Linked DNA regions of Homo sapiens. The protein of the gene in region 4 interacts with the protein of the main gene of each other region in a pairwise test. Each region holds a gene or a part of one and is shown on either strand. Other genes may lie near its edges. The genes, in order: ALDH1A1, RBM45, TAC3 and JPH3.

The links.
Region 1: the proteins of JPH3 (region 4) and ALDH1A1 interact in binary tests that used the Homo sapiens proteins (3 or more experiments, as listed by UniProt).
Region 2: the proteins of JPH3 (region 4) and RBM45 interact in binary tests that used the Homo sapiens proteins (3 or more experiments, as listed by UniProt).
Region 3: the proteins of JPH3 (region 4) and TAC3 interact in binary tests that used the Homo sapiens proteins (3 or more experiments, as listed by UniProt).

What each region holds. Positions count from the first base shown.
Region 1 is NC_000009.12:72,950,025-72,957,268, forward strand, and holds the start of ALDH1A1 (aldehyde dehydrogenase 1A1), read right to left. Parts: upstream 3,030-7,244; 5' UTR 2,977-3,029; coding exon 2,911-2,976; intron 1-2,910. UniProt on the Homo sapiens protein: Cytosolic dehydrogenase that catalyzes the irreversible oxidation of a wide range of aldehydes to their corresponding carboxylic acid.
Region 2 is NC_000002.12:178,108,236-178,115,439, reverse strand, and holds the start of RBM45 (RNA-binding protein 45), read right to left. Parts: upstream 3,004-7,204; 5' UTR 2,894-3,003; coding exon 2,594-2,893; coding exon of another isoform or gene 2,165-2,593; intron 1-2,164. UniProt on the Homo sapiens protein: RNA-binding protein with binding specificity for poly(C). May play an important role in neural development.
Region 3 is NC_000012.12:57,009,481-57,013,544, forward strand, and holds the end of TAC3 (tachykinin-3 isoform 1 preproprotein), read right to left. Parts: intron 3,909-4,064; coding exon 3,879-3,908; intron 3,396-3,878; coding exon 3,342-3,395; intron 3,258-3,341; exon of another isoform or gene 3,141-3,257; intron 2,973-3,140; coding exon 2,899-2,972; 3' UTR 2,898-2,898; intron 2,812-2,897; exon of another isoform or gene 2,654-2,811; intron 809-2,653; 3' UTR 520-808; downstream 1-519. UniProt on the Homo sapiens protein: Tachykinins are active peptides which excite neurons, evoke behavioral responses, are potent vasodilators and secretagogues, and contract (directly or indirectly) many smooth muscles. Is a critical central regulator of gonadal function.
Region 4 is NC_000016.10:87,682,508-87,689,541, reverse strand, and holds part of JPH3 (junctophilin-3), read right to left. Parts: intron 5,401-7,034; coding exon 5,276-5,400; intron 1-5,275. UniProt on the Homo sapiens protein: Junctophilins contribute to the formation of junctional membrane complexes (JMCs) which link the plasma membrane with the endoplasmic or sarcoplasmic reticulum in excitable cells.

The DNA.
Region 1 (7,244 bases), on a different chromosome or scaffold from region 4:
AGCTAGGAGAAGACGTGAGGCATACTTGTAGGAAACAGGTCTAGGAAAGGTTGGGTAAAAGGGAATATTCTGGAAAAACTGGAAAGGATTCAGAAAAATAGGACTAGGATCACTAACGTTAAATCATTTCCCATGTCCAGGCATTATTTCAAGGGCTTTGTACGCATTAAGTTCGTTTAATACTTTCATCGACCTTAGAAAATACGTGCCTTTATCATCCCCATTTTAAACATAAGAAAACCGAGGCAGAGAGAAGTAATGTAGCTTGCCCAATGATCACATAACTTTCAAAGAATCTCTTCATTTAAAGGCTCAATAAAATGGAAAATGTGGGGTTCATTTAGAGTTGGAAAGAGGAGTAATGAGGATAAGGATGGGATATGAGTTCATATTAGTGAATTTATAGCGATGTTTTTGAGGTTTTAAATTCCAAAAGCTTTTGTATAATTTTAGAAAGCATTTCTTAAACTCTGATCTCTCTTTAATCTACCCCAACAAAGAAATAATCAGACTGTACTAGAAAATAAGTCATAAAAACATATGCATCAATAAATTCTTTTGTTTGGGTGAAAAGCAGTCCCAAGCTTGAGAGTATGTAGCTTTTCTATCGTAGTTGTAATATTTTTTTTTTTACTCAACCCTGTCTGTTCTCTCCAACTTGTCCTAACAACCAATATACTTCTAGCTATAATAATAATAAAAAAGGACATTAGAATAGTAACAGAAAAATAACACAAGACTTTAGGGGCTGGTAATAGAAGATAATTCCTCAGACACTATAAACTCCTTGCTTACTTGGTTTGTAACCAGGGAACTTTTTATAGTTAATAACCATCATTTTTTTTTTTAACTCCTCTTGCAAGAGCAAATTCAATCCAATTCTTCACTGGGACATAGTAAACAAAAAATGCGAAGGCATTTGAAAAAGTTCACCCATTTAGATTTAATTACATACATAACTGGCGTCCTCCCAAGTGTGAAAACGCTGTAACCAATAAATTAAACAATAAAATGCTATCTGAGCAGAACAGATTTATATAGAAGATGCACGAGAAATCAAAATTCACTGACTTGTTTGGAGTATTTTTACCCAGAAAAGTTCTTAAACACAGAGCAAAACGCCTGCTCTTTGAGTCTTGCCTTCTTTTGGACACTTAGGTCAGTCACTTTCCCTAGAGGGGAGTTGTTGCACAGTGACTTCGAAGTGAATAGGTTTCAATCTCAAAATCATCTCTCTGTGTTAAGGGTTCATTAGGTCTGTGCTTGTATGTTAGATTTTTAGGACCATCTCATTTGTCTAGTACCGCTTCTTACATGCTTAGTTAATGACTACTAAGTGAAGCTTAATTTAGCAGGAAGGTTATTTACATTAGAGCTTCCTTGAAATACACACACAAGGAAGACTTTGCAAACTTCTGCAAAGCCAAAGGAGTGGGGAGACAGGGGCATCCAGACTACCAAAATATCTTCCTAGGTAGTATTATTAAAAAAAAAATCCCATTAATAATAGTAATACAATAATCTGAGCATTGTCGACAATTTTGAGCTTCATGAAATGTATTTTTAAATGTACCCACTTTCAATTGAAATTTCTTGTGAATGACAAACTTGGAATAAGAAAATGAGGGAGACTGGACTCTTGCAACCTTTTGGACATACCTTTGCCAAATGTAAATTGTTTGACGGTATGGATTTACTGCATTTTTCATGCTACCATTTGTAGTAAAACTAAATGGAAAAAATCTTTCCTCTTTAACAAAACCTCGTGATAACAATACCTTAAAATACACTTCATAGCTGCTGGTCAACCATGTTAAAGGCACAATCTGATCTCTGCTGCTACTTTCCTGAGGAAAAGAGCCAATCAGCTGAGCAACTTCCTCATTTGTTGTGCTTTATGAAAATGAAAATGCAACAGACCTTGGGATTTCAAAGCCATCCATGGTTACAAGTGAGGAAATAAATATATAACAGTGGGGACTTTTACTTTATCATTAAATTATAATGCCCTTTGTTTTTCTGTTGGCTAATTCAGACAGCAAAATGGCTCTCTCTTGATTTGCAAGAGTTAATTTCTTACCATACTTTCTGCATCACACCATAAAGATAACTTCAAGTAATTTTGGTTAGATTGTGTTTTATTCATTTGTTTGTTTTGGAGTTCTAGGATCTGACAGGAAAGCAGTGTGAAACAGGCAAAGTTCAGAGTTACTCTCAGAACGACTCAAGCAGGATCCATTTCCTAGTTCCCCCCAGCTGCGGATTTTAAAGTCTGGATCTAGCTCCTGCTCTTGTTTCTCTAAATATTTATCAGTTAACAATTACACATCTGCTCCAATGGCAACAAACTTGGCTGAAGAAATAATGCTTTTCTTCCTCCCACCAAAATATGCAAAATAATGCAAGTCCATCTGAAGATTTTCGAATCCAATTATCAGACTTAAGTCCCCCTATTTTAACACTCATTTTATTAAACATATTGGAAAGTTATGTTATTTCAGTATGCTCTCTTTCTCCTTGTTTGCTTTCTATTGTTCCTACTCGTTTGGTTCTTTCCAGTAAGCTTCTCTAGTGAGTATTTTGCTCTCTTATCATACATGCCGGCTATAGTGAAGTTAATAGAAGTGCTTAGTAAAGTCCTCTGAATCCTGGTATAAGAATCCTTTCACACAGAAGAGAATTCCTTTCGCTTGGAAATATTTTAAGAAATAAATTTATGAAAGATTGTCTGATATGATTTAGATCATATTTGATCAGGACACTAAACTGAGACCTGCATTTTGCATGCCTTTTATTTTTATATTTGCAAAGGGCTCTTTACACAAGTTTACTTAAATTGACCTTTAATGCTTTACATAAATGCAGTTTTTGCAAACCCGAGTCAAAGCAGAAAATAGAAGTTTTACTCACCTTAGTATATTGAATCTTCAAATCGGTGAGTAGGACAGGTAAGTCTGGCGTGCCTGAGGATGACATTTCTGATTCGGCTCCTGGAACACAGGTGACTGGCTCAGCAATTTGGTTCTGATAGAGCACTTGGCTTTATTTGTTCCTTTTTTATCTGCACGGGCTAAAGTTTATTTGCATACTCGGATACGATTGGATGAACAAACTCAGAGCAAAAAAAGAAAACGACACTACTTATTTGTAACACCTAGGGCAGGAAGCCTTTGACTTTAAACTTAAATCCTTAAGAAACCAGTGCTCCAGCATCGAATTTGTACCTGGAGACAGTGCACTATTTGCAGATGAATTAATTTACAAAGCCGAAACCTGTGATAAGTGTATGCAGCAGCTGCTCTGGCCACTAAGGCCAGTTATTATTTTTTTGACTTCTCATGCTTTTTAATGCTACTATGTAACTTTCTGTTCTCTGACAGACTTGGAATCAGAGAATTTGAGGATTGAAAAGAGTCTAAAAGGGCACTTGTTCTCAGTAGAAGCTGGCCAGGTGTCTTCAGGACAAGGCTTTCAGGAAATCAGTCCATCTCCCAGAAAATCAAGGTGCTGTTTGGGGAAGAAAGGCCCTTTATCTACACCCTACCCTAAGTTAGTTTTAAAATATCGTATCAGTCTTGTGTATTTTCAGTGCTGGGTAAGTAGACCTACTGTGATCTCAGAAGCCCTAAATTATCTTTATTTTCTATATGTGAACAGAAAAGCCAGCAGGACTTTTAGGGAATTCGGAACACACTGTCACACACAATCACCACAATTAGAAATATGGCAATATCATCTATTAATACTCATTTAAAATGAAAGTAATCCTGGTTTTGGAAGTTGTCTGTATTTATCAACATAGGCAGTGTACAAAGACTAAATTTAAGCAGGGCTTCCAAACAATTCAAGTTCTTAAATTAATATTTAGCTGAAGGACAATTTTTTAAACAGTGTTACTCCCATTTTAAGTACAATACTTTATTGTATTGTAGCTCTAGCAAACGTTACAATAGGAACAAGATAAAATACTCTGGATGCTCTGATTGTGGAGAATCAACCAATTTTTTTTTTTCTAGTGAAACTTGCCAATTCCCCTGAATATGGGACTTACATAGGGAAACTAAAAATTTCTGAATTGTTTGCCCAAATCAGGTGCAGCACTTGTTTCCCTTTCTACCCTCATTTCATATCCCCATTTTAGAGACATACAGAGGGTGAGTAGCTTACTTATGGTCACAGATCTATTAGTGCAGGACCAGAATTTCATTTCAGGCCAGTCTGACTCCCAAACCTGGACTCTTATTTCTGTTTACTATTTCTACCCTATTCTCCACAAGAGAACTCCTACATGGGTTCAAGCATCAACTGCTTTGGTTTTCTCAGTGAATAGTCACCCTTACAGGCATTTAAACATAACTTTTTATTCATCTAAGACAAGAATTTGCAAAACTTTTTCTGTAAATATTTTCAGCCTCTGGGCTGGATGGTTTCTGATATAATTTACTTGACTCTATTTAAAAGAAACTGTAGATGATAGGTAAATTAATGGGTGTAGTTGTTTTCCTATAGAACTTTATTTAAAAAGACAGAAGGCAGGCCAGATTTGGTGCACGGGCCAACTCCCTAGATTCTAAGGCAATATCATTCCCAATGCCTTTGACTCCCCCGTGTCTTATGTTTGATGACCAGATAGAAACTTCTGTGTTCTTTCAACATTTCTCTGTTTCTTTCTTTTTGGAAAGTCTAATTGTTTTCTCTCTCAAAAATGTGTTTTGAGTTAAATGCACAATTACACAACAGCTGTTACATAACTTGAGAGTGGCGCTCTGGCCATGCCCAAACAGCTGTGTTTTGCTGCTTTCTTCTCCCAGAGTCACAGTTGTTTGTGGATTCAAATACTGGTTTATTTGATGTCCAGGCGATGAAAGCTCAAGGCTTCATAACATACTTGGCTTGTCATCTCACTTCTTATATGATCATTCTCAATTGTATTTTATTGGATAATTATGTAAGAACAGTCCCTTTATACCAGGCATTCCTGAATGTAGGCAAAAGGAGTTGCTTTGGAGACAGGTTACCACACCTGCCCATTTAATTTCAGCAAATATTTACTAAGTATCATTTATGCATCCATAATTCTTTAGCCCTAACCTCACTTAAGCAGATCTTTTCTGCCTAGAAACCACAGGGCCTGAGACCTATATTTTTGAGGTAAACATCATCCTGCCCTGAGAGCTTATTTTGTAGAATAGCATATTTCTGGGAATTGCTGCATATGAGGAAAAGATTTCATCAGACTACTTCTATTCCTTACAGAGGAAATAATGGCTTTTGTGAGAACCTAGGGACCAAGGTTGCACATTTTAGAACTGGACCCAGGATTGTACGTTTTTATGGTATGCCAGGACTATGCAGCAGAGGAGGAGCTGTCCCTTTAACTTGAGAGTAATCGACAAATGATGTTTCATCTTCTTTTTCCTCCTTATGAACAAACTAAATCACACACACACACACACACAGGCACACACACATATGGAGAGAGAAGCAAGAAACATAAGAGGATAGTTTATTCATCTCTTGAATTTGACTTCTCCAGCCATTTGTGAAAGCTTTCATTATACCAAGAAACATATAGATTATGACTTCAACCATTCTTGAAACTACTCTTTCATTTTACAACAAACATCTCCAGAACTCCGTCCAATCCTCAGTTCCTGAAAAGATAAAAGGAACCTAATCTGCCACCCAGGACTTAAAATTTTTAAAAAAATGTTGAAAAAAGTCATATGATGAATTAAAAATAGCTTCTGCAATGGACTGAATTTTTTTTGTCCAGTCACAATGGATATGTTGAAATCCTAACCCCCCATGTGATGGTATTAGGAGATGGAGCCTTTGGGAGGTGTATTAGTCCATTCCCATGCTACTAATAAAGACATACTTGAGACTGGGTAATTTATAAAGGAAAGAGGTTTAATTGACTCACAGTTCAGCATGGCTGGGGAGGCCTTAGGAAACTTACAATCACAGTGGAAGGGGAAGCAAACACGTCCTTCTTCACATGGTGGCAGCAAGGAGAAGTGCTCAGCAAAAGGGGGAAAACCCCCTTATAAAACCATCAGATCTCATGAGAATTCACTTATTATCATGAGAACAGGATGACGGTAACCCCCCTCCATGATTAAAGTACATCCCACCGGATCCCTCCCATGACATGTGGGGATTATGGGAACTACAATTCAAGGTGAGATTTGGGTGGGAACACAGAGCCAAATCATATTAGGAGGTAATGAGGTTATGAGGGTAGGACCCTCATGAATGGATCAGTGCTTTTATAAAAGGGACTCCAGAGAGATCTCTCGCTGTTTCTGCCATGTGTGGATGCAATGAGACATTGGCAATCTGTAACCCAAAAGAGGGCTCTCACCAGAACCCAACTATGTTGGCACCCTAATTTCAGACTTCAAGCTTCCAGAACTGTGAGAAATTAATTTTTGTTATAGCAGCCTGAATGAACTAAGACAGTTTCTTTTCATATTTCCTGATTTCAAGATGCTGGAACCATTTATTGAAGATGAACCTCTCCTACTCCAGTTACATGACCACTCCCCTAACTATTCTCTGTTGCCTTAGCATGTCTGCCTGTTGGTAAACCTAGCAAGAAATCTATCCCTATGCTTTTGATTACTACATTTTTATCAGATACCACATTGCTCTTATGCTTATTTGAGTTTTAATAATTTGGGAAAAGTGGATCTTGTATGTAGTGAGAGAGTCTGTACTTAGTTGACAAGTTGATGTTAAAAATGGAAGTGGAAGGCAGAATTCAAGTATATGAACATATGTATTTGTTGACTAATTTCTGTTCACATGCCATTCTTCTTCAATTGGAAAAATTTCCTCACCTCTGATTTCTCCTGCTCTTTACATATCTTTTCATTGTTCTTCTCTTTGGCTTGTGTTACTGAGATAGGATAGATGCCCCTCTAATCTGGTCTAACCAGGACACTAACTGATTAGTAAGGTCACTAAAAGAAACAGTACATTAAAGCCTCTGTAAGATAATTATTTGAGTTTAAATAGGTTTTTGCTAAACCTTATGGGTTGAGGCCATTTCTTGGAACTGGATTTGCTGCTTGGAATTTGAAATAATCTTGCATAAATAGTACTCATAGTGTTTTGTCTAGTTTCCAGTTTGCTTCCTTAATGTGTAGAAAGAAAGACATGAAAGACATCAATGAGTCAATCAAAATGTAGACTACTTTGAGATTTCCACAATTTTTTCTTTTTTTTTTTTTTATAAT
Region 2 (7,204 bases), on a different chromosome or scaffold from region 4:
TAAATGGTAAATAGGGAAATACAAATAGGGAAGCTTTAAGTATATGCAAAGACACTAGAGAAAAAAAAAAGAACCTCAGGTAAGATGAAATTGGAAGTGCCATCAGAGCACAGATTTCTATATTTTAGAGGACTGAGGTGTTTCAAATCTCTGATAAAGGAGACAGTCTATGTAGAACATACGTAAAATAATTAACCTCCTCATGGTAGATTTCTCCCATAAATTTTTACCTTCATAGACTGAGTGTTCATAGGCTCTAGATAAGAAGCATTCTTGCAAAACTACAGCCAAGATTTTTTTCTTCTGTTTTCTAGGTTTCCCCCTTTCCGCCAGATAACATAGTTGGTCACAGAATAACTTTTACTTGGACAATCTTTTCTGGCTGAGGGCTGGTAAGATAATATTGTTGTCTTACAGATCCTCTGAAACTTTGTAAAAGCAAAGTACAATAGAAATATTGAAGCTGAATTAATTTAACTGGAAATGCTGAAAACAACCCAAGAGTGTTCCAGTTGAAGATGGCTCAAGCTGCAGCTGCTGAATGAAACTAGTCTGTTAGGGTGTGGTGGCTCACAACTGTAATGGGAGGATGAAACGGGAGGCTCACTTGAGTCCAGGAGCTTGAGACCTGCTTAGGCAACATAGTGAGACCCTGTCTCTAAGAAAAATAAAAAAAATAAGCTGGGCATGGTGGTGCACATCTGTAGTCCCAGCTACTCGAGAGGGAGGATGAGGCAAGAGGATTGCTTGAGTCTGGGAGGTGGAGGCTACAGTGAGCTGTGATCAAGAAGCCACTGCACTCTAGCCTGGGTGACAGAGTGAGATTCTGTCTCAAAAAAAGAAAAAGAAACAGAAACTAGACTGTCTAGCTAGGTACTACAGTGAAACAACCTTCTGGCTAAAACTGAATAGTCAAAAATGTGACAAAGAAAATAGTAAAGTTTATTTCTTTTTGGGAACAAGATCTTTAATTTCTCTGAGGCTAAAAGAGAGGGTACATTTCGGTGTTGGGCCTTTAATTTCTCTTATAGAAATTTATCAGGGGAAGGTGGTCCATCAATTTCAAATATGGGACAGTTTTTTGGGCTGCCCACAAGGGCTCTGTGGCCATGTTACACTCAAAATATAAAAATCCTCTCCACTAAGGTCATAATTGGACAGCGATAAAATTCATTAGTCTAGTACAGGGGTCAGCAAACCACAGCTCCATTTTTGGTATAGCCCATGATGTAATAATTGTTTTTACAGTTTTTAAGGACTGTAAAAACAGACAAGGTTATGTGACAGAGACTGTATGTGGCCTGCAAAGCCTAAAATATTTACTAGTCAGCCCTTTACAGAAAAAGTTTGCCAATTCCTGATCCTGTATGCTGTGGCCCTACAATTAATTTTGTTGCTGTCACTCTGACACACTTCAGAGGGTTGGAGAAGTGGGAGGAAGGGACTGTTTACTGTGTTGTTGGTAGAGTCCCAGGCTCCTTCTCTTTGGTGGATGGAGCAAGACCTCCAGAGACTGAAATATCTCTGAGCCCTTTATTTACATAAATCCATATTAATACCATTCTCAGTTTGGAAAACAATTTTTTAAAAAATTGAGAAAATATTTTTGTGCAAAGTACCAACAGAATAACATACACAGCAACTATTTACATGGGGCAGACGAAGGCTACAATTTAAGCAATTGCCAGATTCTCAGGATTGAGTCCTGATTTGAGATCACAGGGAGTAAGCTGTGACATCTTGGCTACTACTGATCAATAACAAGGACATTATTGAGGGCTTACCCTGTGTGAGGCACTGTGCTGACAGCACATATTATGTCAAATAACCCTCAAAATGATCCTTCCTGCCATGTGTCATTATCACAATGATTTGGCTCTTCTTAAGGCAGTTTACTTTGGTCTGCTTTCAAAGAAAAGTTGCAGTAACAGAAAGGGTCAAGAACCAAATGTATGCTATTAACACTTTCAGAAACAGAGCTCATTCAAAACAATTTTCCAAAATAACAAAATGTGAAGAATATGTAACAGTGACCGTTTTAAACACCTGCACTTATTCTTTCTGTACATGTATTCTTTCGCCTGGTACTAGGAAAACGTCCAACACCAGAGGTCCCTCCCCAGTTTAAAGTACTTCTGTCAAGTTGTTAACGCCTCATCTGTACCTGAGGAAAAGTAGAGTTTTTCCGTTTTTTATATATGGAAATCTGGGCATCTGAGAGAGGAAGGTCAGAAAAGTACTCAAAGTAGGCTAGGACGAGTTTGGCAGTGAACTCAAGAGCTGGTGGATTAGTGAGGGCGAGGGAGAGGGGAAGCCCAGCCACTGCTGTTCTGTCACCCGGTGGCCGCGGCTGCCGGGTCCGCTCTCGTGGGGCAAACACTCCGCATCCCGTCCCCTTCCCTGCAACCCGGCGCAGCTTCGTGGGAGGGGAGCCTCTCCTCAAAGCAGCCCCTGTCCCCAAGCCAGGTGCTGTCTGGTCAGCTGCCGGGAACGGATGTTCCACTCCTCCCTCACCCCGGCAGAGCAGCAGGTGAAGGGAGGTCCAAGAGGCCCACTCCTTCCCCCGAGGGCACCCCGACCCGGGCACCCGCACCTTGATGGGCTTGGTGTCGTTGGGGCCGAGGCACTGGCCATGCATCTCCTCCATGGCCCTGCAGGCCTGTGAGCTGCGGGCGAACTTGACGAAAGCAATGCCCTTGGACTCCTTGGTGTGCTTGTCCCGCACCACCCAGATGTCCTGGATGTCGCCAAAAGGCGAGAAGCGCTCCCTCAGCACCGACTCAGGTGTGTACTTGCTGATCACAAGGAAGATGCGGCTGTTGGGCGGTTCGTCCAGGCTGTCCACGCCCGGGCGGAAGCCCCCGCCGCTCGCAGAGCTGCCAGCTTCGTCCATGGTGCTCCACCCGAATGCAGGAGCCTCACTGCTCTTTGCTTCTGCGGTGTCTGCCACCGCTGCTGTCTCACACCCAAGCCTTTGCCGGCTCGGTGCTCCGCTTCCGGGAGAAAGAGGAGTCCGGCGCCAGGCGCTGTCCAGCCGCGCAGGATGAGGCCTTCCGGGGAGCGGCCTGCAGCGCCCCCTGGCGACGCGGGGGACCCTGACCCAGTCTAAGTCTCAAATCCTCAAATCCAGCTGAGCCTAGGCCCAAGTTATCAGTTGTGCAATCGTTCCCTGCAGGCAGAACAGCGCTGCCTAATGCACAGGCTTTCCCAACGCTGGCTTTACCCCACCCCTAAGGCCAAGGATTCTTTCCAGTGTTAAAGAAAAAATTATTCATGACACTCGTTAGAGATGGTACAGGAAGGCCGACTTTGACAAAGGGAGCCATGGAGATAGGTCCAGGGACAGCTGCAATGGGGTCTTGCAGTGGGAGAGAGAGATTGGACTGAATTTTGACTCTAATAAGGACAAATTTCTAACCAAGAAGCTTGGTGGGAGGTCAGTGGATGGAAAATTACAAAGAGGGAACATCAGTGTTAAGGAGGATTCTGGCTAAACCAACTTGACAGGATAGTTGCTGAAGGCAGGCCAGGGTGATTGATATCCATGGTAGTCAGACACCAAGAATGAGGATTTTCACTACACTGATTCAGCAGGATTCTTGCTCAAATTGGATTCTACAAGGACAGAAAGCCCAAGATCAAGCCTAGTCAAGCAGAGGACTCAAAGGAGCCTAACTAAGTTTTGGTCAAAGTGGAGAGTTGTCACCATCTTGGTCATAAGCTCAATAGATGATCAATATAGGACAGAGTTCAAACTATATAGCATTAGAGTTGGAAGGAAGCTTTGAGATCATTCAATTTCAGCGTCATTTGTTAGAGATGAGGAAACTGAGGCCTATAGCATAGCCAAAGTAATAGAGATAAAAAGTACGACTAAAACCAGAACTAACTTGGCCAGGCGCAGTGGCTCACGTCTGTGATCCCAGCACTTTGGGAGGCCGAGGCGGGCGGATCACGAGGTCAGGAGATCGAGACCATCCTGGCTAACACGGTGAAACCCCGTCTCTACCAAAAAAATACAAAAAAATTAGTTTGGCGTGGTGGCGGGCACCTGTAGTCCCAGCTACTCAGGAGGCTGAGGCAGGAGAATGGTGTGAACCCAGGAGGCACAGCTTGCAGTGAGCAGAGTTTGCACCACTGCACTCCAGCCTGGGGGATAGAGCGAGACTCCACCTCAAACAACAACAACAACAACAAAAAACCCAGAACTAACTCCATCTGTTGATTTACTCAACTTCTACAAGCAACCCTGGGGTTGGAGGGCAGTGAGGGTGGACTGCTCAGCTGTGGAACTAAGAGAAATCATAGAGTGCAAGCAAAGTGGGAAATGCCTTCTTGTTAACAAGCCTTAGAGGAGAGGTCAGAAACCCAGTAGAAATCCAGAAACAAGGCCTGGATTTAGCAGTGGCATTGGAATGAAGTGAAAGGAATAAACCCCTAAGTAGACCGAGGGCGGAGTTCTTCAAATGAACAAGTTCTGGATGCTAAGACCTAGGTTGCTATGAAGTCAACCAGATAAATACTTATTGTACTCCAACTGTGTGCCAGGCTCTATGCCAGGAGCTAGATATATAATGAGGAACAGGAAAGACATGTCCCGAGGGCTTGTTTTCCCCCACTGTGGAAATCTTACATGTAAATATATAATGCAAAGTAATATCAGATTATGTTACATGGTTTTGCTACTGAATTGTGTGAGCCTGGACAAGTTACTTAATACTTGCAGCTTCGGTTTCATTAACTGTAAAGTAGGAATAATATTACCTACTAAATAGGTAATACATATTATTTTGTGGTTGGATTAGTTAAGCTTGATAGCCGCCTAATAGCTACGCAGGAGCATGACTATCAAGTTTAATTAATTCACCCATTCACTTAATAAGTATTTTTGACTATCTACTATGTGTTAGGCACTGTGTTATACTGAAGGGATGTAGTATTGAACAAAATAATTACTCTTCTTCCCCCACAGAGTTAATCATTTAGCCTTATATAGTTATGCTCATATAAGATAATATATATGGAGTTCATAGTTTAGAGATCAAATGAGATAATATTTGTATAATGGTATAATTGAGATTAATTTTCTTGTTCCCTTTGACTATGGTATCCACTCCCCCACCACTGATATTATACAGTTGTGTGATGACTACTGAGAGTCAGGGATTGTGGGTTGTCACCCTGGATTTAGCACTAAGATTTTTATAATTTCTCCTTGTATTACATTCCATATCTGTAGTGAGGGTTCTGTTTACCCTGAGGCTGAACAACTCTAGGAAGTATCTTTTCTTGACTTTCCATTTCTCTTTTTCCTACCCACAACAATCAAGGTAAATGAAAATAATTTGATAGTGTGAGTTTTGTTGATGAGAGGAACTGCAAAGCAATATTATTTGCAAACCAGTGCCATCTAGTGGAAAATGTGTAATTTTCTTAAATTGTCCTGACTGGGCAATCTCTATTCTTTGTGAAATAAGACTACTGATTGGTGTCCTGAAAATTTTAGGCTGTTATTGAGAACAGTTAATTCTTTTCTCAAAAAAAGATAAAAGATTGCATAAAACAAAACCAGGAACGCAAATATTGGAAAATGCCAGAAAAGCAAAATTTCTTTACTATCCAATTATGTGAAATATGACATATTCAAGGAAAATTAGAAATTTACTTATAAATTAAAAAAAGTAAGTACATTTTCTTCATGACATGTATTTATTTTAAACAGATTTATTGAGATATAATTCTTCTTCTTATCTTATTTTTTCTTTTCTTTTTTTTTTTTTTTTTTAAGGGATTGGTGTCTCACTATGTTGCCTAGGGCAATCTCGAACTGGCCTTAAGTGATTCTCTTGCCTACGCCTCCTAAGTAGCTGGGATTACAGGTGAGACCCACCACACCCAGTGAGTTCTAATTCTTACATCATACAATTCACTCATTTGATGTATTCAATTAAATCGTTTTTAGTGCCTTCACAGCATTGTGCAAGCATCATCGCAATCAATTTTAGAACATTTCATCACTCAATGACCAAATTGTTATATTTCAAATCATAAAACCTTTGAACATGAATTACATGTAACTAAAACACCTAAAAATGTCTGAGGTTTAAAAGAATGATTTTTAGTTAGTCTGCTTAATAGAAGAAACCAGGTGCTGGGCATTTGCAGATTAAATTTTTTTCAAGGCTTTAGAACATGTAGCCTATAAAGCACTGTTATTAGAATGTGCACACATGTTTGTTTCACATGAAATTCAGATTTTTTTGAAACTTTTTCTCCCTCAAATCTTTTCTTTTTAAAAATGAGAGGTGATATTGTGACTAATTTTTGAAATGCCAGGAGCAAATAGTAAATTTTTGTCATTATTTTCCAAACTGAAGTACAATGAGGCTTACTTAGTTGGTGATATTAGTCTTCATATGTTACATCAATTAACTAAAAATATTTCGCCCTATTTGCAAATTTTTTATAGGTTTTAAAACTAAGACTTATTGGTGATCAATTAGTAGCTTTCAGATTGTTGTATATGAATATGATCCAGAGTTTCCATTTGACCCATCTGTAAGGCTACTGTCTACTGATAACGTAGGCAATTACTTAGTCTGACCTGTGGCAGGCACTCAAGAAATGGTAGTCTCCTTCTTGAGTTTGCATGCCTTTGAGTTTGAGAATAATATCTAACACCTGATTTTTTTTTTCACAGTATGCCTGCTCCTTTTGATTCAACTTGATGACATACATCTTTTAAATGTGTAGATCACAGGACAAAATTCATAGATACCACTTAGAATAGTTTCATTAAAGCATCTGGTGACTGTGGCTATTTAAATTAAAATTACTTAAAATTACCTAAAATTAAAATGAATTATAATGAAAATAATTAAAAATTCATTTCTTCAGTTGAATTAGCCAGTTTCCGACAGCTCAAGAGCTATCCACAGCTACTGGACAGCGGGCACGCAGAGCCAAGCACTGCACAGCAAGTACAAGGCTTTAAGCCTCTGCGAGAGGTGAGATCCCACGGGATCTGGGGGCCAATCAGCAGTGGGACCGGGTCCCGGCTTGCCATTGGCTGGCGATCACTGGTCGCGCGCGTCCGGCTGCGCTTGCAGCCCAGGGCGTGAGGTGCTCTTTCTGGATCGCCAGCCTCGAAGTTGAGGCGTGGACTCTGGCCAGGTGGCTGTTCCAGGTGACTGCTGGGAGCGGG
Region 3 (4,064 bases), on a different chromosome or scaffold from region 4:
TCGGCTCACTGCAACCCCTGCCTCCTGGGTTCAAACGATTCTCCTGCCTCAGCCTCCCAAGTAGCTGGAATTACAGGCATGCGCCACCATGCCTGGCTAATTTTTGTATTTTTAGTAGAGAAGGGGTTTCACCATGTTGGTCAGGCTGGTCTCGACCTCCTGACCTCGTGATCCACCCGCCTCGGCCTCCCAAAGTGCTGGGATTACAGGCGTGAGCCACCGGGCCCGGCCTGTTTTTTCTTTATCTAAAACTGGTCTGTAAAAATCTTTGTGTGTTAGAAACCATCTTCCAAATTCGTGTATTTATTTTAATCACTAAATAAATCTGATACTCATCGTGCAAAGCACTGTGTAAGGCACTGTTCAGGAAATAGATATATACAAAAAGATATGTAAAGTTATTTACATTTAAATATGAAGTGTGTGTATCATAAGTATGTGTGTATTTACCATGTAGCTGGAGGAGTCAAGGAACAGAAAAACCCACCAACCAAACAAGTAAACACACACACCACATCATTCATATGCAAAAATCCTTTATTGTTGAGGAATAGAGAGAGACATTATATTTTTAATGTAGGACACTACAGGAACTCTAGGGTATTCTACAGTCAATGCCCATTGGGGTTGGGGATATTCACTATGCAGTTTCCACACCAGGGTCAGGTAGAAAAGATGGAGAAGGAGTCAAAGCACAAGAATGTTACAAGAACAGGGAAGAGAAAGGGTAACAGGAGCGTGCGCACCTGGGGATTGGGACAGGGAAAGAGGTCTTCCTAATGCAGTCCAGGAGTCCGGAAGTGGAGTACTGAGGACAAAAAACAAAACAAAACAAAAAAAAACACTGAAATCACATCTTATATCCTGTAAAAAAGTCCCACTGAAAACCTGCTGTGGCAGCAGGAGAGAAGGGGAGAGGCGTCTGTGAGAGAGGAAAGAACAAGTCTTGACCCTCAGCCTGCCCTCCAGGCTTTGGGCCTGAGGATGGAACTCTCCTAGCCGCAGGTACTTGCACCTTCCCAGCTGCCATATTTACATTACTCTACACACCTGTGTGCATGGCCAGTGGGGCCCATGTGGACCAAAGATGTAGGAACCAAGTTCATGCCATCCTAGCACCACCATGAGCCAGACACACACACAGCCCTGCCCAAGGTGCCCTACTATGAATGCTCCCCCTGCCTTATCCAGTTCCTCCTCTTCCCAGAAACCTCCCAGAGGAAGCACAGGCCCAGGGATTACTTACAGTTTCACATGAATGAAATCAGATGACACAATGATCTGTGTTGATCCATCTCATCTAATCTTTAAATGCCAGCTCCCAGAAACCTTATGTCCTATTCTGCCTGACACCTAACAGGTTGGGAATGCTCCCTCAATGGTAAGATTATGAAAGCTGCAATTATGGGTCCCTCTGAAAGAGCCTGGATGCACAAACAAGCATTAAAAGTAGATTTCCACAATGCACTTGTTTTTGCCATTTGTATAAAATACTATAGCAAAATTGCACTGTAATTATCTTTATGGCCAGTGCATAACGCTGGAGCAGAGTATGTCATCCAGATATAGCTGCTCGTATAATTATCTGGCCGTCGGCAGGACTGAAATAACCATCTAATGAGAGCAAAATGATACAGTAACTACCATGTAATCAGCAAGTTACAGTTATTATAGCTCTTTGTGCCCTCTCACCCAACACTAAATGGGGGGCCAGACTCAGTCTCTGGTCCCAGGAATTCATGCACAGGCAGCATCATCAAGCACCAGCTCCTTGGGTCTTGGGCGTGCCACCTTGAGACCAGTGAGTATGGGTAACAGGGACACAGAGAGAAAAGCAGGAGGCTCTCCATGATTACGAGCCTTCCCAATCTCTCTCCCTCTCCTTTTCACTCCCTCCACCCCAATTCTTTGGAAGCTAGTGAAAAGAAAGCCATTGGTGGAGCTGCTCTTGCTGTGTGTGGGAAGACAGTGTCAAGGCGGAAGGTTCGTGTTTTGACTAGACACTTCCCTGGGGGACTCTTACACTCGCATACCAAGTGAGGAATTTGTCAGCCCACTCAGGCCTGGGGTCCAGACAGAGCCAGTCAGGGGAAACATTAGGACATCCCCCATACCTCCCAAACTGGGACAATTATCATAAAATTGGCACACAGCACTGTGCACCCGGCACTGTTCTGAACACTTTACCTATACTCAATCCTCAAAACCACAACCCTGTGAGATACTATTATCACTTTCATTTTTCAGATGAGGAAACTGAAGCACAGGAGGATATGTACCTTGGCCAAAAAGATACAGATAGAGTGGCAGATCCAGGATTCACATTCAGGCCATTGTTCTTATTCATTATGCTAAAGAGAGATTCAGATATGGTTTCCTGCTAATCCCCATTAGATTTCAGAGTTCCTTGCATTTCTTCCTGAATCATCCTTGTGTATGACTACCTTCTGGGCCCCGTAACCCAGGATTCTGAGTGATTTGAAAGGCTCAGCCTGCCTGGGAGGCAAATGCTTGCCTGTGAATTGGTTGTGGTATTTGTAATTATCAGATAATAATTTCTCCATCTTTTTGCATAGATTACAAAAGAATGAAGTCCAAACAACAGAAATTGCCCATCGGGGAAGCCCCTCTCTCCTCATCTCCCAACACTCACTCCTGCTCAATAGTCAGCTGCCGTCCATGATCCAGAGGAAAGAGATGAAAGACGGGGGATGTGTACAAACACACGTGCCTCTAAGTGTCTTTGTGTTTGGCCGACAGTGTGCTGGGCATTGGCAGTGTATTTCAGGGCAAATCTATGAGCTTTAATACCTGTAGCATGGGAGGAAATGCACAGCTGGCAACCCCCACAGCCCCCTCCCCAGTCCCCTCTCCCCTCTCTAATGAACAATCCTTACCCTATTCTGCTCTCGGGGGATACTTGAGGATGCCAAAGCTGGGGACGTTCTCTTGATTCACATCCGTAGGAGAGTCTAGGGTAAAGCGAACAGTGTAAGTAAGAGGGATCTTTCTGAATGTGAACTACACCCTGATCCAACAGCAAAGGGCTGGCTATGACGGGCAGTGTTCAAAGACAGAGTTGGGAGACTGGGGTGGAAGCAGAGTCTCCCTATCCTTCCTCCCAGCTGCAACAGGACTACCTTATAAAGGTCTCTGCTCCTCTGTTCCCAGGGAAGACTTTCCTGTGGATCCAAGCTGATTGGGATGAAGGGGCCGAGGAACCCTCACTGAAGGTAAGAAAGGTCCTGTCTTTCCCTCTGGTGACAAATATGAGGCACGTGACTTCTGTCATACTCTGCCAGTACCCTAAGCCCTTCCACTGTACCTCCACACACTCCTACCTGGCTGGACGCTCCTCTTGCCCATAAGTCCCACAAAGAAGTCATGCATGTCACCTGCAGAAAAGGGCCAACATTGTCAGCAGTGATGATGAGAAAGTGAAGCATCTCCCCAGACATGGGTCAACACTTCTGAGACTGGGTTTCTGGTCTCTGTTCCTTTTTCTTGTCAAAGCATGACTCCTCACAGTTAGCAAGTGCCTCCCCTAAACCCACTCTCTCTGCTCACCTTTCCTTCCTCCACATTTCAAGAATTTTCTGCTCTAGCAGGTGCCTGATTTGGAATTTTCAGGGCCACGAAGAGATCCCCTTGTTTTCCAAGGACCAGCCAGCAGAGGGAGAGCCCACCATGCCCCTCACACCAGCTTCCTCCTAGTTCTGGATGGCCTCTCCCTTTCAGGAAAGGTTGGCTGAGCAGTGGGAGCTGGCATATTGTTTGTACCAGGTGAGAAGGGGCTGGACAAAATGGCCCCTGGGCCCAATGCCCCACAGAGCTCTGGGCAAGTGGCAAGAGATAGGGAGGGAGAAGAGGGTACTTACGTTTCTCGGGAGATGTTGATTCCTTAGGATCTGTGAAACCAAGAACAGATGTCTAAATGGGGAGTGAAGTTGGAAAGTGATGAGAGCGGGGTTCAGATCACAACCCTCACCGATTCACTAAGCTATCCCCCATCTCTCTCCCATCTGAAAGGATCTCCCAGGCCTCTTATCTTCAGAATCCTGCCC
Region 4 (7,034 bases):
AGGCGCTTCCCACTCACCGAAAGGCTGCAGGCAAGGGAGGGGAGTGGGGACCGTGGCTCCCAAAGCCCTCTGTGGGACCCCCGTGGTCCCCACCCCACAGACACTTGGAGGGAGACTGGCTAGGCCCAGGCACCACAGGAAGGGCGGACAGCAGCTCCCAGGCTACAAGGGAGACCCAAGGCTCGGAAAGTGCGTGAGGACGCTGGGGTGTGGACTCAGGTCCCACCAACCCTGACTCGCCTGTCCTGAGGGTAAGAGGAAGCCCCTCACCCTAGCTGACCACCTGTCTGGGGAGGCCGAGCTGTCACAGCAAGGCCGCCAACACCCCTACCCGCCTGGGACTGTGTCTCAGGGTGCTGGGACAGTCTTGCTGAGAAACAGCCAGTGCCGGGGCCAGCGTGAGAGCCCAGGAGCCGACTTCCCTCCCCACCTTTCGAGGCTGCTGGGGCTTCAAGTCCTAGGGCGGGGCTCCCCGGAAGGGGAGGTCACCACAGGACCCAGGGGCCAGCTCTGCAGCCAGCAGAGTCCCTGTCGTCTGCCGGTGGCTCAGTCCCCATCAGCCCCCACCCGGAGGCCTGGATAGGGAGGGGCAGCATTGTAGGACTAGCCCCGAGACTTCTCCGGAGCTCCGTGAGCCCCCAGCAGGAGGTGAGAACCAAGAACATTGACTGGGATCTCATTTCCTGCCAACGCAGGGACACGGGAGCCATGCCCGACTTTATTCCATTAGGAGAAACCCAAGAACGCGGCGCTTCTTACCCTCCGGGGAACAGTTACACGTTCATCTCAAGTAGCGTCCTAGGCTCAGCACAGAACAGTGGGACCCCCGCCCCCAGCATCCCCGTCCTGCCCGAGCCAAAATGGTGCAGAGCTCTGTGGGAATTTGGGGAGTCTTCCCTCTGAGGACGGAGGTCTCAGAGCTCTACCCGGGGCGGCCACCTCATGAGACCAGCTCGGACACCAAGAGCCACTGCCCATCTTAGAGTCTCTCACGCTCGGACATTCTCCTGGCCTGTACCCCAGTCTGACCTTTTGGCAGGAGAAGGTCTGGGAGACGCCTGTACCCCAGTCTGACCTTTTGGCAGGAGAAGGTCTGGGAGACATGGCTACCCTCGGTGTGGCACCAGATAGTCCCTCCGTTTGTAAAGAGACGTTAGCAAGCAGATTCGGGGCACGCTGCGACGCCACCAGGCTGGGCTGCTGTGTCCTCCTCCTTGCTGGTCTAAGAGGCAGTGCTGAGCAGAGCGAGGCCATGGCCCTGGCCTGGGGCTTGGGGCACAGCTGGGTAGCTCTGGGTGGGTGGCCAGCCCTCCCAAGTCTGAGTTCCTGTCACACGGGGGTGTGGGTGGGCCACTCTGAGGTCTCAATGACTGCTTCTCTGTGGTCACTCCCCAGAAACAGGGCTGGGCTGGTTGGGTGTCCCCCGAGCAGAGCAGGGAATGGGCCAGAGAAGGTCTGTGTAGAACTGTGCTGACATCCACGTACCCACCTGACGCCCAGCCCCACCACCTCTCTCCCCGTGAGGGTCCTGTGTGGAGGGCAGCCCTGGCCCCATCAGAGGCCCCCAATCATGCCCACGGATCACCCACATCGTACCTCCTCCTTGGCCAGGATGGGACTTCCAAGGGGCTGGCATTCCTGTGCCTTAGACGCTATGGACCTAGCAGGCTGGGATCAAGGCCCCCCCCATCCCCCGATGGCGCCCCGGCCTTTCCCACCAGGTCGTCCACCCACTGCTGCCGAGATCAGGCCTGGCTGGCCCAGGAGACCCCACGCTAGAGGGGCCCCGACTCCCAGCACCACCAGCAGGAGGGCACCCTCAGCTAGAATGAGCTGCTGAGCAGGTAACGTTCCTAGAAGCCTCGTGGTGAGGATGCAGGGCGGGTCCTCGTGAAGCCCCTGCAGCTTCTTCCTGTGCCTTCAAGCCACCTGCGTCCTGCAGCCTCCGACGCTCAGTCCTCCTGCCTCTGGGGCGGGGGCGGATGGCACCGGAAGTGGCCTGGGCACTGGACACCGCATGGCCAGGCTCCTTCATGGTCCTGCCTTCACGTGGCCTTGGGCAGAACCCTGACGGTCAGAGTTCTCGGGCTGGGAGGCTGCCAGGGACCTCCCAGACAGGCAGCAAGAGGCTGGCGCCAGCCACTCTCTGCAGCCGAAGCGCTGGATGGTTTGCTTCTCTAGAAGCCGGCATGGCCCAGGCTTCAGAGCCTCGTTTTAAATCCTGATTCCACCACATCCTGCCTGAGCGCTCTGGCAACCCTGTTCCCCTCTTGGAGGCTCTGTTCTGTCATCTGTCATTGGTGACCTCAGCTCCTGGCTGTGAGGACGACTGAGGAAGGACCTGGACAGCTTCCCCCAGCCCCACCCCTCCCCAGCAGCCGAGAAGGCCCCGGGGTGCCTGGTCTGGGAACACTGATCCTGAATGCATCCAAGGCGGAAACAAGAAATGCTTGGATCAAATCTCATGCCAGTCCCAGCGCTTGTAAAAAACACACGGTCCCAACGCCCCCTCCAGGGAAGATGCTGCTCAGAGAAGGCTCCGGGGCGCCACCCAAAGAGGTGGCAGATCGGACCGAGGTGCTCAGAGTGAGCCAGGCTCCAAGGTGCAGCAGCAGGAGGTGAGGCCAACTTGGCCAGACCCTCGAGGACTGGACTCCCACCAGTGAGGCAGCAGCGGCCCCGTCTCTCCATCACAGCGGCCCCCACAGGGGCCCGCATCTGTATCATGAAGACAAGAACTGTCGGAGGAGGCAGCTTCAGGACTTAAAAGGTCAGCCCAAGGCCCCTCCTGCAGGGACCTGAGCCCTCCAGGAAGCATCTCCTCTGAATCCAGGACTGAGCCCTCCAGGAAGCATCTCTGACTCCAGGACTGAGCCCTCTGGGAAGCATCTCCTCTGAATCCAGGACTGAGCCCTCCAGGAAGTATCTCCAAGTCCAGGACTGAGCCCTCCAGGAAGCATCTCTGACTCCAGGACTGAGCCCTCGAGGAAGCATCTCTGACTCCAGGACTGAGCCCTCCGGGAAACATCTCTGACTCCAGGATTGAGCCCTCCAGGAAGCATCTCTGACTCCAGGACTGAGCCCTCTGGGAAGCATCTCCTCTGAATCCAGAACTGAGCCCTCCAGGAAGCATCTCTGACTCCAGGACTGAGCCCTCTGGGAAGCATCTCCTCTGAATCCAGAACTGAGCCCTCCAGGAAGTATCTCTGACTCCAGGACTGAGCCCTCCAGGAAGCATCTCCTCTGACTCCAGGACTGAGCCCTCCAGGAAGCATCTCCGACTCCAGAGTCTTAACTGGAATTCTCAGGGTGGGGGAGCCTGCACCCATTTCTTGGGACTGGAGCAGTAAAGCACCACGCGGGGGTGGGGGTAGAAACACCCAAAAGGCAAACTCGTGTTTCTGGAAGTTAGAAGCCGTGATCCAGGTGTCGGGAGTGCTGCTTCCTTCCAGGGTCTCCGCTCCAGCCACCCTCCAGCCACGGAGTCTCCAGTGATCTCTGACATCACTCCATCCGCCCCTGTCTCCTCCTCTTCTGTCTCTTCTAAGGACGCCGCGTGGATCTAGGACTCACCCCAATCCAGGCTGATCTTGTCTCAAAGTCTGTTCCATAATGACACCTGCACAGACCCTCCTCCCAAATAAGTCACGTTGGGAGCTTCCGGTGGATGCGTCTCTTGGGGGATTTGGCACAGGATGGAGGCTTCAATGTTCCCTGTCTGGTCCCCTTCCTTTCACACATGGAACTGAGGCTCTGAGAGGAAACAAAACAGGCCGCAGGCAGTGGAATGTGAGTCGCAGGCAGGGCTGGAGCTGAGGCGACCATGGGCCAGGGTTGGTACGTGGAATCCCATGCCGTCCTACGTGCATTCTGCGTGGAGTGGCCCAGCCAGGGTTCTGGCAGGTGCCCCCGACGGCACTGGCTTCCTCTCCAGCATCCCTGTTCCGTTCGTCCATCCCGCAGCACTGCACCCACTCCCCACATGCACGTGCACGCTACACGTGTGCCCCCAAGTGTGCGCCCCACCGCCTCCCAGCCCAGGCAGCTGGTCGTGGGCGAGGCAAGGAGGGGCCCCAGGGAGAAGGAAACTCAGGGCCTGAGGGCGAGACCATGGAGGATGCCAATGGCCACAGGGGCACGTGGCCCATTGCCCTCCCACTTGGACACTTTGGGGTGCGTGTGTCTGGAGGGGCCAGGAGAGTGGAGGGGACGCAGTGGAATAGAAGCTGCCCAAGGCGGTGGGGGTGCGGGGGCTCGTCCTCCTGACCTCCAGGCTGCAGCTGCAGGCTCTGCAGGGCCCGGCACTCGCCCAGTGAAGGCAAGGTCTTGGAGTGGTGGCGGACGGTCACCTCTAGAGATGATGTGGTCTCGCGTTCCAGTCAGGGGAGCGCCCAGCCCCGCAGCCCCCAGGCTGGGCTCCTCATCCTGTCCTGGTGGCCAGAGTGGCAGGCGTTGCGAGCAAGTTCAGGGCTGTGGTGTCAGGTGCGGACCTCCAGCGCGCAGAGCCTCATCCGAATACCGCTCACCGGTCAGAGCTCGGGTTGAGGGGGCGCGCTCCTAACCCCATTCTCTGGGGCCTCCTGGTGCAGAGGAAGCTTCCTCCAAGATGAGGTAGGAGATGGGAGGCAGCTGGCCACGGCCTCTCCGCCACCCACCCCACACCCTCCACGCCCCCGCCACTGTCACTGGGCCGTATCACCCATGATCCCCCCCTCGAAGGGAGGACGAGGTTCCTAAATCAGGCAGCAGCTTCCAGCTCTTTCCGAGGGGCACAGCGGGAGCTGCCATTTGTGACGCTGTCCAACCCAGCAGCCACTGGGTGTGTTTAATGGTAAGTTAGTTCACATCAGAGGCAGGTCAAGAGCCAGGACCGCAGACACACCCAGCTAATGGCTGCCACGCTGGACCCAGCAGATAGTTCCATCATCCCAGAAGGTTCTAGAACAACACTGGGGGAGGGCGGGCAGCAGACAGCACAGGCTGGGCAGGTGGGAATTCACCGTCAGGGACAGCCGGCAAGCAACACGCGGTGCCCCAAGGACTGTGGGAATGGGAGAGACCTGCCAAGACACATGTCCTGTGTCCCGGGGAGCCAGGCCAGGCCTTGGCACAAACAAGCACCTTCGGCGGGAGAGGAAGACACCGGGCAGGGGAGCAGCTGGGGCTGAGCCCATCTAAGCCTACCCGCTCTGGAGGACACATCTGCTGCCAGGACTGCCCAGCCATCCACGCACCCCCTCCCCACGATGCCAGTATCAGGCCCGGCGAGACTCACCGTTTTCCCGGTGCTGGAAGGAAGGGGAGAACTCTTTGGCAGTGATCCTGGCGATCCGCGCCTCCTCCTGGGCTTTCTGAGCTGCTGTGAGGGCTGCCTCGGCCTTTGCCCGAGAGTGGGAGGTCCTGGGGGAGACAGGGAGGAGCGTGAGGGGGGGCAGGGGGCACAGGTGACAGGGGTCTGGGTTGAGGTACTCTGCCAACCCCCCAACAACGGGCTGGGCTAAGACAAGATGCTGGCACCCCATGTTTACCCTCAGACTTCTGGATCTTGTTCGTTCATTCATTCATTCATTCAATAAACATCACTGAGCATCAACCAACCAGGCCCAGTGCACAGGACATGCTTGAAAACACCTCTGGGCAGGGCATGGTGGCTCACGCCTGTAATCCCAGCACTTTGGGAGGCCAAGGCAGGAAGATCGCTTGAGCTCAGGCGTTCACGACCAGCCTGGGCAACATGGCAAAAGCCTGTCTCTGCCAAAAATACAAAATTAGCTGGGTGTGATGGCACGCATCTGTGGTCCCAGCTACTCGGGACACTGAGGCAGGAGGATTGCTTGAATCTGGGAGGTGGAGGTTGCAGTGAGCTGAGATCGCGTCACTGCACTCCAGCTTGGGTAATAGAGCAAGACTCTGTCTCAAGGAAAAAAAAAAGGGGAGGGGCTGGGCACAGTGGCTCACGCCTGTAATCCCAGCACTTTGGGAGGCTGAGGCGGGCAGATCATGAGGTCAGGAGTTCAAGACCAGCCTGCACAACATGGTGAAACTCCGTCTCTACTAAAAATTACAAAAATTAGCCGGGTGTTGTGGCACGTGCCTGTAATCCCAGCTACTCAGGAGGCTGAGGAAGGAGAATTGCTTGAACCTGGGAGGCGGAAGTTGCAGTGAGCGGAGATCACGCCATTGCACTCCAGCCTGGGTGACAGAGCAAGACTCCATCTCAAAAAAAAAAAAAGAAAATGTTTCTGTTCTTATTATCAACAAACATCAGCATGTGCACAGAAAGAGTCCAAGCCCAGACAACCCACCCCGGCGGTGCCGGCCCGCTGTGCTGTGTGTGTCTGTGCTTCCTGCCACTGCCCCGGTGTGGGTTGCGGGACCACCTCCCTGCCCAGTAATCCCAGCAACTCTGACTTGGGAACCCAGGGCTTGGGCAGCTGGGCAGTTCCCTCACCCAGCCGAAAGATGACGCCGACACCCATGTGTGACACGAAGGAGCCATTGTACCTGTGGGCAGCCGGGCACGTCACCCCTCTGGCCGCTCCCTGACTGTGTCTCTCCCTCTGCTGAGTCCTGCAGGGGACCTGCCCACCCTTTGTAAGACAAGGGACTAGACAGACGTCCCGAAGGCAGAATGTGGGGCTCTGTGCATCTCAGCAGCCTGGGGCTTGCATTTCTTCCTACCTGGTGTGCTGGCCCCCGGGGGGGCCTGCCAGTGGCCATGGGCACCACTTCCCCAACAATGGGGAAACTGAGGCACAATGACCAATTCCCCCACGACAAATCCCCCCTCCGAGCAGACTCCCTGGGAGGTCTCCTGTTCACGGTTCCTGACTTAGCCTGTTGGGGCTGCAACAAAGCACCGCAGCTTGGGCGGCTCATCAATAGCAGACATTGCTTTCCCCCAGTTCCGGAGGCTGGAAGTCCAAGATCAAGGTGCCAGCAGATTTGGTGTCTGCAGAGGACCCACTTTCTGGGTCCTGGACAGCACCTTCCTGCTGGGTGCTCACATGGTAGAAGAAGCGAGGGTGCTCTCT